2 separate regions of the Homo sapiens genome follow, and region 1 is linked to region 2. Evidence: fine-mapped expression QTL. Tissue or cell type: whole blood. Region 2 holds a variant in brackets; the other region holds the start of a gene. All regions are shown on one strand. Distances are between the middles of the regions.

Region 1 (8,174 bases), 22 kb after region 2:
GTGTAAGCTGATCTGAGGGATGGGAAAAAGTAAACGACGAGGAAAGAGAAGTGGGGAGAATGTTCCTGGCCGGAGGTACAGCCTGTGCAAAGGCCTGGAGGGAAGAAAGCCCGAGGCACACTGGAGGGAAGGAAGGAAGGAAGCTCAGTGGGGTCCAGTGCAGTGGCCCACGCCTGCGATCCCAGCACTTTGGGAGGCAGAGGTGGGAGGATCGCTTGAGGCCAGCACTTTGAGACCAGCCTGGGCAACACAGTGAGACCCTATCTCTACAAAAAATACAAAAACATTAGCTAGGCATGGTTACATGTGCCTGTAGTCCCAGCTACTCAGGAGGCTGAGGCGGGAGGATGGCTTGAGCCCAGGAGTTAAAGGCTGCAGTAAGCTGTGTTCACTCCACTGCACTCCAGCCTGGGTGAGGGAGTGAGACCCTGTCTCAAAAAAAAAACAAAAACCCAGAAAGGAACTGGGTGGGGGCAGGGAGTCCATGCTGCCCAGGGCTTTAGGGAGTAGATAAACAGCAAAGCCAGTGCTGGGACCAAGACTGAGTCAGTGAGCCAGGGAACAAAGCAGTGGGCGTCCCCAGAAGAAAAAGGGAGTGAAAGAATTCTAGGTACAGGGAACGGCTTGGGCAAAGGTCTGAGAAGAGGATTATGGCCTATTTGTAAAGCTGAGGGAGGCTCAGAGTAGCTTAATGCTGCCTGGCTGGGCTGGAGGCAGGGACTGAGGGCCTGTAATTGTTCTGGGGCAATGGGGAGCCATAGAGGGTGTGTGAGCAGAGGCAAAGCCCAATCAGACTAGGAGCAGGGGAAAGATGCTCACCTGGGCTCCTCTGCTGGCCGCCACTCCACGGAATGGTACAAACTCTTCACGGCCACCAGCCACTCCCGCAGCACAGTTGACGTGTTATCCATGTTGTGGTCCGTAGCCACCCTGCAGGGAGAGGGGACAGGCAGCGTACTTGGGGAGACTGAGGCAGGACCAGGCAGCAGTGAGGCAAGTCAAGGACCACCATCCCCAACTGGCCTCCCACCAGCTATGTATCCCTGGACAGGACACTTCTCCCTTTCCTTTGTTTTTTTTTGAGACAGAGTCTCGCTCTGTTGCCCAGGCTGGAGTGCAGTGGCGCGATCTCGGCTCACTGCAAGCTCCGCCTCCCGGGTTCACGCCTTCTCCTGTCTCAGCCTCCCAAGTAGCTGGGACTACAGGCGCCCGCCACCACACCCGGCTAATTTTTTTGTATTTTTAGTAGAGACGGGGTTTCACCATGTTGGCCAGGCTGGTCTCGATCTCCTGACCTCGTGATCCGCCCACCTTGGCCTCCCAAAGTGCTGGACTTAACAAGCGTGAGCCACCGCGCCCGGCCCATTTCTCCCTTTCCATGTCAGTTTCCTCATCTGTAACATGGGGGTGGGAACAGGACCCAGTTTACTGGGAAGTGGAAGGATTAAACAAGCTGATTTTGGAAAGACCCATTAGTGATTGGCTGTTTTATTACTGAGCATCTAAGATCTTGCAAACCACATTCACTAACAAATATGTGTCACTTAATTTTTTTTTTCTTTTGAGACAGAGTCTTGCTCTGTCACCCAGGCTAGAGTGCAGTGGCACAATCTTGGTTCACTGCAATCTCCGCCTACCAGGTCCAAGCAATTCTCCTGCCTCAGCCTCCCGAGTAGCTGGGATTACAGGTGCCCACCACCATGCCCAGCTAATTTTTGCATTTTTAGTAGAGATGGGGTTTCGCCATGTTGGCCAGGCTGCTCTCGAACTCCTGACCTCAGGTGATCCACCTGCCTCAGCCTCCCAAAGTGCTGGGATGACAGGAATGAGCCACCGCACACGGCAATTTTTGTAATGTATAGATCAGGCCAGGCACGGTGGCTCACGCCTGTCATCCCAGCACTTTGAGAGGCCGAGGCGGGTGTATCACCTGAGGTCAGGAGTTTGAGACCAGCCTGGCCAACATGGCGAAACCCCATCTCTACTAAAAATACAAAAATTAGGCCGGGCATGGTGGCTCACGCTTGTAATTCCAGCACTTTGGGAGGCCGAGGCGGGTGAATCACTTGAGGCCAGGAGTTTGAGCCTAGCCTGGCCAACATGGTGAAATCCCATCTCTACTAAAAACACAAAAAATTAGCTGGGTGTGGTGGCGGGCACCTGTAATCCCAGCTACTCAGGAGGCCGAGGCAGGAGAATCGCTTGAACCTGGGAGGAGGAGGTTGCAGTGAGCCGAGATCGTGCCACTGCACTCCAGCCTCAGCAACGAGAGCGAGACTCAGTCTCAAAAAATAAATAAATAAAAAATATTAAAAAATGAAATGTATATATCAGAAACCAGCTGGGTGCAATGGCTCACGCCTGTAATCCCAATATGTTGGGAGGCCGAGGTGGGCAGGTCACTTGAGCTCGGGAGTTCGAGACCAGCCTGGCCAATAGGGCAAAACCCCATCTCTAGAAAAAATACAAAAATTAGCTGGGCGCAGTGGCATACGCCTGTAGTCCCAGTTACTCAAGAAGCTGAGGCAGGAGAATCACTTGAGCCCAGGAGGGGGAAGTTGCAGTGAGCTAGGATTGCACCACTGCACTCCCGCCTGGGCGACAGATGTAAAACCCTGTATCAAAAAAAAAAGTATATCTCAGCAGGGCGCTGTGGCTCATGCCTGTAATCCCAGCACTTAGGGAGGCCGAGGCAGGCAGATCATGAGGTCAGGAGATCAACACAAGCCTGGCCACAATGGTGAAACCCTGACTCTATTAAAAATACAAAAATTAGCCAGGCATGGTGGTGCGCACCTGTAATCCCAAGCTACTCGGGAGGCTGAGGCAGGAGAATCACTTGAACCCGGAGGCGGAGGTTGCAATGAGCTGAGATCGTGTCACTGTACTCCAGCCTGGGCGACAGAGCAAGATTCCGTCTGAGAGAAAAAAAAAAGTATATCTCAAAGTATATCTCATAAATCCCTTACCCTGCCTTCATCTTCTCCTGTGAGCCACACCACTTCAGTGGGCTGCAGTCAATTATTCATTCAACAAACATTTGTTAAGTACCAATTGTGTATTTGGATTATCCAGACTGAGAAATCAGGTGGAAGGAAAAGCGACATTTGGGAGTTTAGTTTGACCGTAGTGCCAAAAGCTAATTCTGCCCAATAAATTAAGTTGACAATAACACCAGCAATGACAGTAATCATGATAATAAAATCACTGAGAGCCAAGCCCATGCCAGACCCAAGGGCTCCACATCCATTAACTGGATAATCTTCAGAGACAAACCCAAAAAGAGAATTATATTAATACGCTCATTTTCTTTTCTTTTTCTTTTTTTAGAGGCAGGTCTTACTCTGTAGCCCAGGCTGGAGTGCAGTGGTGCAATCATAGGTCACTGCAGCCTCGAACTCCTGGGCTCAAGCGATTCTCCTGCGTCAGCCTCCTGAATAGCTGGGACTACAGGCACACACCACCGCACCTGGCTAATTTTTGTATTTTTTTTCTAGAGACGGGGTTTTGCCATGTTGGCAAGGCTGGTGTCGAACTCCTGAGCTCAAGTGACCCGCTTACCTTGGCCTCCCAAATTGCTAGGATTACTGCGTGAGCCACTGCACCCGGACCCATTTTCCATTTGAGAAAACTGAGGCAGGGAGTGAGAAGTCACCAGTCAAAGGTTTCTTCAGAGCTCTGCCCCATTCCCTACCAAGAAAGCATCCACTTCCTCCTGGGCCATCTGGTCCTGGACTCCACCCACGCCGGTCTGAGGGCAGGGGTTTGACTGGGGCCTGGAGCCAGGCTGAGTTCAAGCTTAAGGGCAGCAGCCGGCACAGAAAGGCTTGCTGTTAGATGTGGCCTCTGGCAACGCCCCAGTGGGGGCTCTGGGCTCCGTCCTTTGGAGGTGTACGTGCCCCAGAGGGAGTTAGAGCCCCAGTTAGTGAGGCCGGAGCTGCCCTAGTAGGGTCCAGCAGGCAGAAGCGGTGCCCAGCCCACCCCAAAGGAGCCAGCAGGAGGAACTCGGTCCCGCTTGTGTTGTGGGGAGGGCTGTGTCTGGCCCCATGGGAGGACAGCAGGCAGGGGGCACGCGTGGACCCGTCCCGATGGGGGCAGCGGGCAGGGGCATGCGTAGAACCGTCCCGATGGGGGTAGCGAGCAGGAAGCACGCGCGGACCCGCCCAGAAGAGGACAGCGGGCAGGGGCTCGCGTGGACCCACCCCTATGGGGACAGCAAGCAGGGGCTCGCGTGACCCGCCTGATGGGGACAGCGGGCTCGACTCACCATAGCGCCGTGCGCTCCCGCGGGTGCCGCAGCCGCTCGAGTGCGCCCAGCGTGGTGGGCAACGCGTGGGCCGCGTTTCGCGCCAACAGCGCGATGAGCACGCGCGGCGCCTGCAGGGGCGACTCCGGGCTCCAGCGCTCCTCGGGGAAGTAGGCGTCGGCGCCCGGCGGGGCCCCCGGCGGCAGTGGCGCCAGCAGCAGAAGCAGCAGCGCCAGGAGCGGCTGCCCGCGCCGCCGGCCCGCGCGTGGGGCCGCCGCCATCGCGCCACGCGTCTCCTTTAAGTCGTTTTTCTGCGGGAGGACTCTGGCCGCGCCTTAAAGGGGTCATAGGGGCCCCGCCCGGCCGCGCGCCTTAAAGGGGAGGAGCGCGCCGGGCGTGAAGTCCAGGCCCCGCCTCCAGACGCTCTCCGAGTCCCAAGGCCCGGAGTGACGTCACCTGCAGCCCTACCCAGGACGCCCCGCCCCCGCACCGATCTTAAAGGCACATAGCGCTCGGAGCGCGTGGAAGGGATGTTAGGGGTAGCGTTAGGGTTAGGAACCCGCGCTTCCTCCAGGCGCCTCCTACCACTGAGACCTCCGCCAGATGCGCCGCCCAATTTCCCCATGTATAAAACCCGGGCTGTGCCACCAGGCGGACTTGGCTACTTAGGACCTGGTTTGGGACCCAAGAGACCTTAGCCTCAGTTTCCTCTGCTGCAACGTGGGTTTTGCCATCCTGGTTTTGGATCTCACAGGGATGTCATTGAGGGTTGTGGAGAATAAAGGTCATGACGTCCACAGACCTGGCGTCACATTCAGTCCCCGCCTTGGGCTTGCTATATGTGAGCCTCAGTCTGTCCATCTATAAAATGAGATCATAGAGACCCTATAGGGTTGGCGTGAAAATAGAGCCAGGGCATGATAATGGACCGTTCTGGGCACAAGCTCTTCCAGAGACAAGGGCCATGTTTTCATGGAAACGCTGTCAAGGGATTGTTTTCCAATACTCTAGAGCCGCATTTTCAAATTGATTGACTTAGTATCACACTTTTTTTTTTTTTTTTTTGAGACGGAGTCTGGCTTTGTTGCCCGGGCTGGAGTGCAGTGGTGCAACATAGCAAGACCGTGCCTCTATTTTTAAAAACAATAAAAACTTTAAAAAATACATCTGAACATTATTATTATTATTATTATTATTTTCTTTTTTTTTTTTTTTGAGACAGCGTCTCACTCCATTGCCCCGGCTAGAGTACAGTGGCGCGATCTCGGCTCACTGCAACCTCCGCCTCCCGGGTTCAAGCGATTCTCCTGCTTCAGCCTCCTGAGTAGCTGGGACTACAGGCACGCGCCACCACGCCCGGCTAATTTTTGTTTATAGTAGAGATGGGGTTTCACCATATTGGCCAGGCTGGTCTCGAACTCCTGACCTCCTGATCCGCCCACCTCAGCCTCCCAAAGTGCTGGGATTACAGGCGTGAGCCACCGCGCCCAGCTTATTATTATTTTCACAGAGAGGGTCTTACTCTGTGGCTCAGGCTAGAGTGCAGTGGCATGATCACATGATCATGGCTCACTGCAGCCTCAACCTCCTGGGCTCAACTGATCCTCCTGCCTCAGCCTCCCAAGTAGCTGGGACTACAAGTGCACTCAACCACGCCCAGCTAATTTTTAAATTTTTTGTAGAGATGGAGTCTCGCTATGTTGCCCCGGCTGTTCTCAAACTCCTGGTCTCAAGTAATCCTCCCCCTTCAGCCTCCCAAACTGCTGGGATTACCAGTGAGCCATCATGCCCCGCTAAAACTTAATTTTTAAGAATGATACAGGCCAGGTGCAGTGGCTCACGCCTGTAATCCCAGCATTTTGGGAGGCTGAGGCAGGCGGATCACTTGAGGTCAGGAGTTCGAGACCAGCTTGGTCAATATGGTGAAGCCCCCATCTCTTCTAAAAACACAAAAAATTAGCCGGTCATGGTGGCGCTTCGCCTGTAATCCCAGCTACTACGGAGGCCGAGGCAGGAGAATCACTTGAACCCAGGAGGTGGAGGTTGCAGTGAGCCAAAATCGCACCACTGCATTCCAGCCTGGGTGACAGAGTGAGACACCGTCTCAAAAAAAAAAAAAAAAAGGTAAAAACAAATTTACACTCTGTGGACTTGATGAGGAAAGGTCTTTTCATATTAAGTAAGAAAAAGGAGGTGACAAGATACATCCCATCCCATCTGGAAGGATTTAGACCCAAGGGCAAACAATGTTTTTCTCAAAAGGGGCAGGATGACAAATTCTTGTAGCTGCAATTGTTCCAGAATTAACATCTACATCCCGTCCGGGGTAAAAGGAAGACAGCTAAAGAAGCCTATGAAGTGCAAATGTATTGAGCAAATGTATTTCGGAAGGTGGGGTTGGAGGGAAATAGGTGGAAAGGTCAGGAATATCTCATTGTCTTGGGGTAGGCCGAAAACTCCAGACAGAATGGGAGGAAACGGTCTCCAGGGAGTGTGAAAGTCCCTCTGCAAGCTGAACCAAGAACACACGGGAATCCCTGTGGAACCCACTCCGGAAGCAGCTGCAAGACAGCAGAGAAGCTGCCAATATCCAGTTAGCAGATGACTTTGCTGGCAAGCAGAGGAAGTCGGTAAAAGCTTGTCTCCCAGCCAGGAAACTTGACACCAAGTTAAGATTTGGAGCTAGGAAACAAACCCAAAAGGCTCACAGCAAGCGGAGAAAAAAACCCCAAAATCTGTAACCTGTATCACAAAGCGTTCATATCCTTCAGATATAAAGAGTTATTAGATATCAATAAGAAAAATGCAAACACTCCTGAAAAGTAGAAAAAAGCTATGAACAGGCAATTCACTGAAATTAAAAAAAAAAAAACTACAAACATGTAAATGGCTAATCAACATATTTGGATTTTGTTTTTTGAGACAGGGTCTCACTCCCATCACCCAGGCTGGAGTGCAGTGGTGCAATCACCACTCACTGCAGCCTTGAGTTCCCAGGCTCAGGTAAATCTCCCATCTCAGCCCAGCTTCTTTTAAATTTTATTTATTTATTTATTTATTTATTTATTTATTTATTTATTTTATTTTTTAGTAGAGACAGGTTTCACCACATTGCCCAAGCTGGCCTCAAAACTCCTTGGCTCAAGCAATCCACCTGTCTCAGCCTCCCAAAGTGCTGGGATGACAGGCGTGAGCCACCACTCCCGGCCGCTAATTTTGTATTTTTTGTAGAGATGAGGTCTCACTATGTTCGCCAGGCTGGTCTTGAACTCCTGAGCTCAAGTGATCTGCCCGCCTCAGCCTCCCAAAGTGCTGGGATTACAGGTGTGCACTGCCACGCCTGGCCATAATAAACTTATTTGTAAGTTCAATTTAGTCAAAGAAATTCAAAATAAAATCATGAGATTTCTGTGTGTGTCTAACTGGCATAGCTTTTTTCTTTTCATGAAAAGTCCTAGTGTTTAGAAAGGATTTGGAGGCTGGACATAGTGGATCACTCCTATAATCCTAGCACTTTGGGAGGCCAAGGCAGGAGGATTGCTTGAGTCCAGGAGTTTGAGATCAGCCTGGGCAGCATAGCGAGACCTTGTCTCTATTATTTAAAAAAAAAAAATTAGGCCACGTGTGGTGGCTCACACCTGTAATCCCAGCACTTTGGGAGGCTGAGGGGGGCAGATCACTTAAGGACAGGAGTTCGAGACCAGCCTGGCCAACATGGTGAAACCCCATCTCTACTAAAAACACAAAAATTAACCAGGCATGGTGGCGGGTGCCTGAAATCTCAGCTACTCGGGAGGCTGAGGCAGGAGAATCGCTTGAACCCGGGAGGCGGAGGTTGCAGTGAGCCGAGATCCTGCCACTGCACTCCAGCCCGGGTGACAGAGCAAGACTCAGTCTCAAAAAAAAAAAAAAAATTAAAATAAAGAAA
Region 2 (8,174 bases):
CCATAGCTCAGCTCCCTGCACACAGCAGGTGCTCAGTAAGTGTACCGAATCAGGAACTTATCTTTGTGACATGAGTGCCAGGCACACAGTAGGTGACCAATATGTGCTTGAATAAATGGATAGAAGCATCTTATTTATCTCAATATTCCCAGAGCCTGGGCTGGGCACAGTGGCTCATGCCTGTAACCCTAGCACTTTGGGTGGCCAAGGCGGGCAGATCACTTGAGGTCAGGAGTTCGAGACCAGCCTGGCCAACATGGTGAAACCCCGTCTCTACTAAAAATACAAAAACTAGCCAGATGTGATGGCACGCACCTATAGTCCCAGCTACTTGGGAGGCCGAGAAACAAGAATTGCTGGACGCTGGGAGGCGCAGGCTGCAGTGAGCCGTCACACCACTGCACTCCAGCCTGGGTGACAGAGACAGACTCTACTCTTAAAAAAAAAAAAAAAAAAATCCCAGAGCCTGGAATGGCACCCAACACACAGTAGGCACTCAATAAATCCTTGAATGAATTTTAAAAATGAATGTGTATCACTAGTGCCTGATTCTTAATCTGATCAGTAACTGCTTGATGACTGAATCAATCGCTGATGGAGGGAACAATTATGCCTCATTCACTGCCGTAACATGGGAACCTTGCATACAGCAGGTGCTTAATAAATGCTGGGCACATGAACAGATGAAGAGGGCTTGGTTCCTCCCAATTCCCCAGGGCCAAGCCCTGTTGCTGGCATGCAGTAGGCACTCCATTAATGCTGCCTGTGTGCACGTGATTGCTTAGCAAGAGCTGGCTGGACACCACCCCACACGAGAGCCCTCTGTGGCCTGCCAAGGGGTCCAGAGGTGGACCTGATGTCCTCAGTAAGCACGTGGAGCCTGGGCCACCGATGGCTGCTTTGGCTTTCTGGCTGCTACCCCTCAGAGTTCATCCCGGGCAGCACTGTCCAGTGGGGACTGGAGCACGTCCGAGTTCTTGGCCTCACGGCTCAGTGCCTGCTGCTCCCGCATCTTCTGGGACTTGGCGCGGTCCCAGTCGGTCTTGACGTGCTCATTGTTCCATACGACTGAGGTCTCGGTGTCACTCACATAGCCATCGTCTCCTGTGTAGTGTGTGGGGTAGATGAGCAGCGGCTCCACAGAGAAGGCATGCAGGTTGCGGAGGGAGAAGTGGGCCTTGTACTCGGACCTGGGGGGAGGAGGAGGGGAGTGAGGGGCAGCAATGGCTTCAGGGGACGGGACAGCTGGAGGAAAAATTGGGGGTGAAGAAGTCAGCGGGGACAGATTAAAACGTAAGTGTGCAGGGGATACAAATGGAGACAGATCTGCGAGGGGGCAAACGGAGGGAGAAGTAGGCAAAAGAAGAGACATCTTCTCGGAGGCCGTGAGTCTCACATCCCCATTCTCCCAGGACAGACCCACCGTGAAACCCCAGCCCAGCAGCCGCCTGCCCCTCTCACACTGGGTGTTTGTCGAACATGACGGGCAGGAACTCGTCCACAGGCAGCATCTTGGAGAGCGGCTCAGCAGCCAGCAGTTTGCGGGCGCCTTGCAGGGAGATCACGTAGGCCAGGGTCCAGTAGGAATAGTCGGCCTCCACCAGGTTCCTCACGCGAGGCACAGCCTTCTCGGGGTGCTCCACCTGCATCCGCTTCCGGCCCACATAGCTGGGGTGCAAGATCGGGCCTGTCACTCTCCTCCCGCCCTCCGGAGGGAGCTTGCCCAGAAAGCCAGGGATCTAGTTACCCCGTCAGGTCCTGGGATGGGAGCAGGCTCAGCATGTTTGCAGAGCTCTGTGACTGGATGGAGTGAATGCAGGAGCCCAGGGGTCTGGCGGTCATGGGGGAGAAGAGTGAGTTTTTCCAAAGGGCGTGAGGGAGCCATGGAGGATCTGGAGCTGGGGAGAGCAGGATCACGCAGACGTTCTCTGAGGCTGAAGCTGCTCTGAGTTCAGAGGACAGTGGGGGTGGAGGTGGGCGAGGTGCCCTGATGGGGGGGCAGTCAGGAATGGAGGGGTGCAGTTACTATTCACATGGGGCAGTGTTCCCAGAATGCAGATTAGGGCACTGCACATGGAAGGGAAAAAAGAGATGGAGGAAGGGAGAGGACAAACCAGCCCACTTACAGAAGAGAAGGACGGCTCCAGTGCTGGAAACATGTTGGTGGCACTCCCATCCAGGGGCTTGTCTAAGACCAGGCGCCCTGGCCACGCCCCCACACTCTTCGGCCACACCTCCAGCTCTGACCACACCCCCATGCTCTTCAGCCACGCCCACAGGCTGCCCGGTCAAATTTTAGCCACATCCACCTCCACAGGCCTCAGTCAAGTCTCTAAGCCTTGACCAAGCCTGCAGGCTTCCGGCCAGGTCCCTTGAGTTCTGGGTGATCCTTCCAACGCCCTTCCCTATAGGCTACAGCCCTGACAGTGCCTTCAGGCCCAGGAACCACGTGAGCCCTCCTGCTACGCTTCCAAGGGTTGGCCACGCCTGCCACCCTGACCACACCCAGACATACAGGCTCTAGGCTCAGCTGCAGCGCTGTGGCCACGCCCGTAGGATTCAGCTCCACTCCGCCTCCCAGCCCCACCTCTAAGCCCTGGCCATGTACCTAGGCTCCAGTTCCACCCCACCTTCAAGCCCCGCCTCTAAGCCATGACCCATCCCCAGGTCCCAGCTCCACCCTGCCCCCACCCCCACCTCTAAGTCCTGGCCTTGCCCCAGGCCCCAGCTTCACCCCATCCTCAGACCCCCACTCACATGAGGTCCCAGTCCAGGCCCTCCCGCTCCACATCCCGCATGAGGTTCATCAGACGTCTCTTGAAGAAGATCTCAAAACGCAGGTCATCCTCAAACACAAGCGATTTCTGCAGCCCCCGGTCCACCACCTGAGGGAGGAAGCCCCGCCACATCACAGGGAGGCCAAGGCCAGGCCTGACCCTAAAGCACAGAGCTTTGCTTTGAGAAGGTTTGAAAGACCCGTAGAGAAGCCAGTGCATCTCCCTGCCTCTCCTAGCTCCAGGGACATCTGGACATCCAAACCTCTGCCCTCTGCCGTCCATAATGGATCTCAGAAGAGAAAGGCCTCCCAGCCCCTCAAATGCCCACGCCTCATGCACCTCCCGCCTTGCAGCCGCACACCCCCATTTGGCTTCACATTCGATAACAAGTTTTTCTTTTCTTTTTCTTTTTTTTTTTTTTTGAGACGGAGTCTCGCCCTGTCGCCCAGGCTGGAGTGCAGTGGAACGATCTCAACTGCAACCTCCGCCTCCCAGGTTCAAGTAATTCTGCCTCAGCCTCCTGAGCAGCTGGGATTACAGGCATGTGCCACTACGCCCGGATTTTATTTTTCTTTTTTTGAGATGGAGTGTCACTCTTGTCGCCCAGGCTGGAGTGCAATGGCATGATTTCAGCCCACTGCAACCTCTGCCTCCTG[G/C]GTTCAAGTGATTCTCCTGCCTCAGTCTCCCAAGTAGAGGGATTACAGGTGCCCACCACCACACCCAGATAATTTTTGTATTTTTAGTAGAGTCTAGGTTTCACCATGTTGGCCAGGCTGGTCTTGAACTCCTGACCTAAGGTGATCCGCCTGCCTCGGCCTCCCAAAGTGCTGAGATTACAGGCATGAGCCACCACGCCCAGCCATTTTTCTTTTTTCTGAGACACGGTTTTGCTCTGCTGTCCAGTCTGCAGTGCAGTGGCACGATCTTGGCTGACTGCAGCCTTAACTCCTGGGCTCAAGCCACTCTCCCACTTTAGCCTCCCAAATAGTTGGGACCACAGGTGTGCGCCACCATGCCCGGCCCTGATGGCCCAAGTTCGAAGCCTAGTCAGACACCCTCCTCCAATCACAGCCTCTCCCTCTGAGGGTGGATGAGGATGCCTGGGCTGGTGAGTGCCCCCAGCAGCACTGGGCAGGTGCTGGTTTAAAGTGGCTCTGTGGCCATGACTTCTAGTACTAAACATCAAGCACAGAGACCAGGCTGGGAGTAATGAGGATTTGTTTACAGGTCCCAGGCCCCAGACACCACCTGCTGCTCAAAAGGGCTCACCCCTACCCCCAGGCTCAGTTTCCACATTTGCGCAATGGAAGGATGGCAGGTACACCTGGGGGTGATACAGCTGGTGTGGCGCATCATTCACTAAAGAGAGGCCATGGGTCCCATGGCTGAGGCTGGATGCCTAGCCGGGGCTTTGGGGAACTCTTTCAACCCCTTTCCCGTCCAAATCTCCGATGAGATCTAGAGTCATAACTCTGGCCCCGCCCATCACTCAGGACACACCTCCTTCCAGATGTTGTAGTGGCTCAGGAAGCAGCCCAGCTCACCCTTGGTGAGGGGCCGGCCGTGGTAGGGGTCCCGGTAGCCAGGCAGCATCTGGATCCCCAGCGCCTCCACCTGGCTGGTGTTCATGGCTCTGGAGAGGAGGAGGAGAGGGTCACGAAGAAGGTTCACCCTGCCTGCCATTCTGCCATCCCCGGCCATTCCACCACCCCCTGCGGCGTTGAGCAGCTGGTCCACCTCTTGTAGCACTGGCACCCCTTCCGGGCACATGGGGCCTCACTCACCTGCACATGGTATACACTCGCGGGCAAACCTGCTCTCCTCCTCTCCTGGGGTCTGACTGACTTACCCCTCCACAGTCCCCACCAGTCTACACTGGCAGCATGCAAACCTACCCATTCCCCTGGGTCAGGACTCACTTGCCTTCCATGGTCTACAACTGTGAGGATCTGCCCCTTCCCCAGGGTCCCATTCACTTCCCCTTCAGGACGCCCACTGACGAGGTCTACATCTGTTTGGACACCACGCCCGCCCCCATCTGAATCACTTGCCGTCTACCAGCGAGGTCTACACCCACATCCACGTGCGGACCCGCCCCCCCACCCCCAGGCCTCGGACTCACTTGCCGTCCACGGCCTCCACCAGCCGGCACTCGATCTCCTGTGCCTGCAGCGCCCGCAGCATGCGCTCCCGCCGGTCCTGCCGCCGCCTCAGGTTGATCATGAAGACCTGCAGCCCGGAGAGTCCCCAGCCAGATCAGCCCCTGCAAACAAGGGCCCTCCAGCCCCCGCCCCGCCTCCAGGGAAGGCCCAGCTCACCTCGTCGAAGCCCATCTTGTCCGGTGTCTTGGTGGGAGCCGAGATGAAGCGGGAGGGCTCTGCGGGCGGGTGCTTCACTGTGGGGCACAGACGTTGAGGAGTCGCTGGGGTAAGGAGCCTCCAGCCTCTCTCCAACACGCTTTCCCCACCCACTCCATGGCTCCCAGTCAGACTGGCTCGGCCCACAAAGTCGACCTGGCTCCGCCCACATCAGCGCTGCCCTCTAGGAGCCCCTCCCATGTCATTTGAACCCTGCACAGCAGCCCAAAGCCCTGGCCACACCCCAGGCCCCAGCTTCACCCCGCCCCCAGTCCTGCCTCTCAGCCCTGGCCACACCCCAGGCCCCAGCTTCACCGCGCCCAAGGCCCCGCTACTCAACCCTGGACTCGCCCCAGGTCCCAGCCTCACCCTGCCCTTAGCCCCGCCTCTAAGCCCTGGCCACACCCCAGGCTACAGCTTCAACCTGCCCCCCAGCCGCACCACTCAGCCCTGGCCACGCCCCAGGCCCCAGCTTCACCCCACAGCCTCCCCCAGCCTTGCCTCTAAGCCCTGGCCATGCCCCAGGCTCCAACTTCACCCTGCACCCCCCCAGCCCCACCTTTAAACCCTGGCCATGCAACAGCTTCGCTCCGACCCCCAGCCCCGCTTCTAAGTCCTGGTCACACCCCAGGCCCCAGCTTCACCCTGCTCCCAGCCCCGACTCTCAGCCGTGGCCACGCCCTGGGCTCCAGCTTCACTCCGCCCCCAACCCTGCCTCTAAGCCCTGGCCACGCCCCATGCTCCAGCTTCACTCTACCCCCCAGCCCCACCTCTATGCCCCTGCCAACCCAAAGAACCCCCATTCCTACCTCAGGGCCTTTGCACATGCTGGATCCCTGCTTGAAATACCCTTCCTTTCCCTGCTCTGTAACGTTACTTCTCAGCTATGATGCCCTGGGCATGGGGGTCACCCTCCCCACTCCCACCTCCCTAGGCTGAGCCAGGCACCTCCTCTGGGCCCCAGCAGCACCTGGACTTGCACCACCAAAGCTCGCATCCTTGCTGCCCTAACCCCCTGGCCCTGTGCCTGTCTGTTGTGAGCCCTTTGGGAAGGACACCAGGTATGTCTGCTCACACTGGGCCCCTAGTGCCCAACACAGGGGCTTGGCACACAGCAGGCACTCAGTAATTGCTTGTAGAATGAACCAAGAAATGATGGCATGCTGTATATTCTTGATTGGCCTGGGCCTCAGCTTTCCTCATCTATAAAATGGGCCAATAAGCCACTGAGAGGTTTCACAAAGAGATGTCATGAGATCATGCACTATGTCATGGGGTGAACTGTGTCTCCCCAGTGCCAACCACCAGTACCCCAGGATATGATCCTATTTGGACACAGGGTTGTGTACAGAGGTCATCGAGTTAAAATGAGGTCATTAGGGTGGGCCCTAATCCACATGGCTTGTGTGCTTTTAAAAGGGGAAATCTGTAGCTCCTTGGGAGGCTGAGGCAGAAGGATTGCCCAGGAGTTCAAGGCTGCAGCGAGCTATGATGGTGACACTGCACTCCAGCCTGGGTGACAGAGACTCCATCTCCAAAAAAAGCAAAAAAGAAGGCCGGGCACAGTGGTTCATGCCTGTAATCCCAGCACTTTGGGAGGCTGAGGTGGGCAGATCATGAGGTCAGGAGTTCGAGACCAGCCTGGCCAACATACTGAAACCCTGTCCCCACTAAAAATACAAAAAACTAGCTGGGCGCAGTGGCTCATGCCTGTAATCCCAGCACTTTGGGAGGCCGAGGCAGGTGGCTCACAAGGTCAGGAGATCGAGGCCATCCAGGTTAACACAGTGAAACCCCATCTCCAATAAAAATACAAAAAATTAGCCGGATGTGGTAGCAGGCGCCTGTAGTCCCAGCTACTCGGGAGGCTGAGGCAGGAGAATGGCGTGAACCCAGGAAGCGGAGCTTGCAGTGAGCCGAGATCGGGCCACTGCACTCCAGCCTGGGAGACAGAGCGAGACTCCGTCTCAAAAAAAACAAACAAACAAAAAATAATAAAAATAAAAATACAAAAAATTAGCCAGGCGTGGTGGCAAGCGCCTGTTAAACTCAGCTACTTGGGAAGGTGGGGCAGAATCACTTGAACCTGGGAGGCGGAGGTTGCAGTGAGCCAAGATCGCACCATTGCACTCCAGCCCAGGCGACAGTGCAAGACTCCATCTCAAAAAAATAAAAACCAAAAAAACCAAAAACCTAAATTAACAAATTAGCTGAGCATGGTAGTGGCATGCACCTGTGGTCTCAGCTACTTAGGAGGCTGAGGTGGAAGGATCGCTTGAGTCAAGGAGGTTGAGGCTGCAGTGAGCTGTGATTTTGCCACTGCATTCCAGCCTGGGTAACAGCGAGACTCTGTCTCAAAAAAAGGAAATGACAACACAAATATATGTGAGAACTTAAACTGGGAAAACTCTGGTAGCCACAGAGACGCTTCTCAGGCCCGTTTCTGATGGGAGTTGGTGATAAATGGAGACCCACCACCCCCAACTGTAGCCGGGTGGGACCTGGACACCTAAGTATGCCACTCTTGGGTGTTGTGGGGGGCCTGCCCCAGTGATTGTGCAGTCTCCAGGTGTCACCTCAAAAAGACTCAAAAGTCTCCCCCAGGCCAGGCGCAGTGACACACGCCTGTAATCCCAGCATTCTGGGAGGCCGAGGCAGGTGGATCACCTGAGGACAGGAGTTCGAGGCCAGCCTGGCTAACATGGTGAAACCCCGTCTCTACTAAAAATACAAAATTTGCCAGGTGTGGTGGCAGGTACCTGTAATCCCAACTACTCGGGAGGCTGAGGCAGGGGAATCGCTTGAACCCAGGAGGCGGAGGTTTCAAGTGAGCCCAGAATGCGCCACTGCATTCCAGCCTGGGTGACAAAGTGAGACACCGTCTCAAAAAAAAAAAAAAAGTCTCCCCAAAACACAAAGGGCAGGGTGCTATTCCATCTTGAGCCACCAGGGGGAGCCGCAGATAGACTCGTTCAGAAATCGGTAAGGCTGGGGAAACTGAGCCCCGGGACAGAGGCCTCACCCCTCCCACCCAGTCTCC

The links. PIP is the estimated chance that this variant, and not a neighbour inherited with it, causes the effect.
Region 1: it holds the start of COLGALT1, and the variant in region 2 is fine-mapped to the expression of COLGALT1 in whole blood (TOPMed, PIP above 0.99).

The regions. Positions count from the first base shown.
Region 1 is chr19:17,552,067-17,560,240 of GRCh38, reverse strand. COLGALT1 (collagen beta(1-O)galactosyltransferase 1) reads right to left here and starts at 4,592. Exons shown (of 12, transcript NM_024656.4): 1 at 4,268-4,592; 2 at 820-930. The coding sequence starts at 4,527. NIBAN3 (niban apoptosis regulator 3) reads right to left here. Exons shown (of 15, transcript NM_001321827.2): 15 at 6,601-8,174. RefSeq lists a silencer at 4,425-4,514.
Region 2 is chr19:17,574,193-17,582,366 of GRCh38, reverse strand. COLGALT1 (collagen beta(1-O)galactosyltransferase 1) reads right to left here. Exons shown (of 12, transcript NM_024656.4): 7 at 5,096-5,172; 8 at 4,900-5,006; 9 at 4,278-4,410; 10 at 2,758-2,885; 11 at 1,462-1,668; 12 at 1-1,190. The coding sequence ends at 923. Among named protein-coding and RNA genes, the nearest start is that of COLGALT1, 23 kb to the right of the region's middle. RefSeq lists enhancers at 2,133-2,427, 2,262-2,471. The variant G/C (reference allele first, on the strand shown) is at 3,434.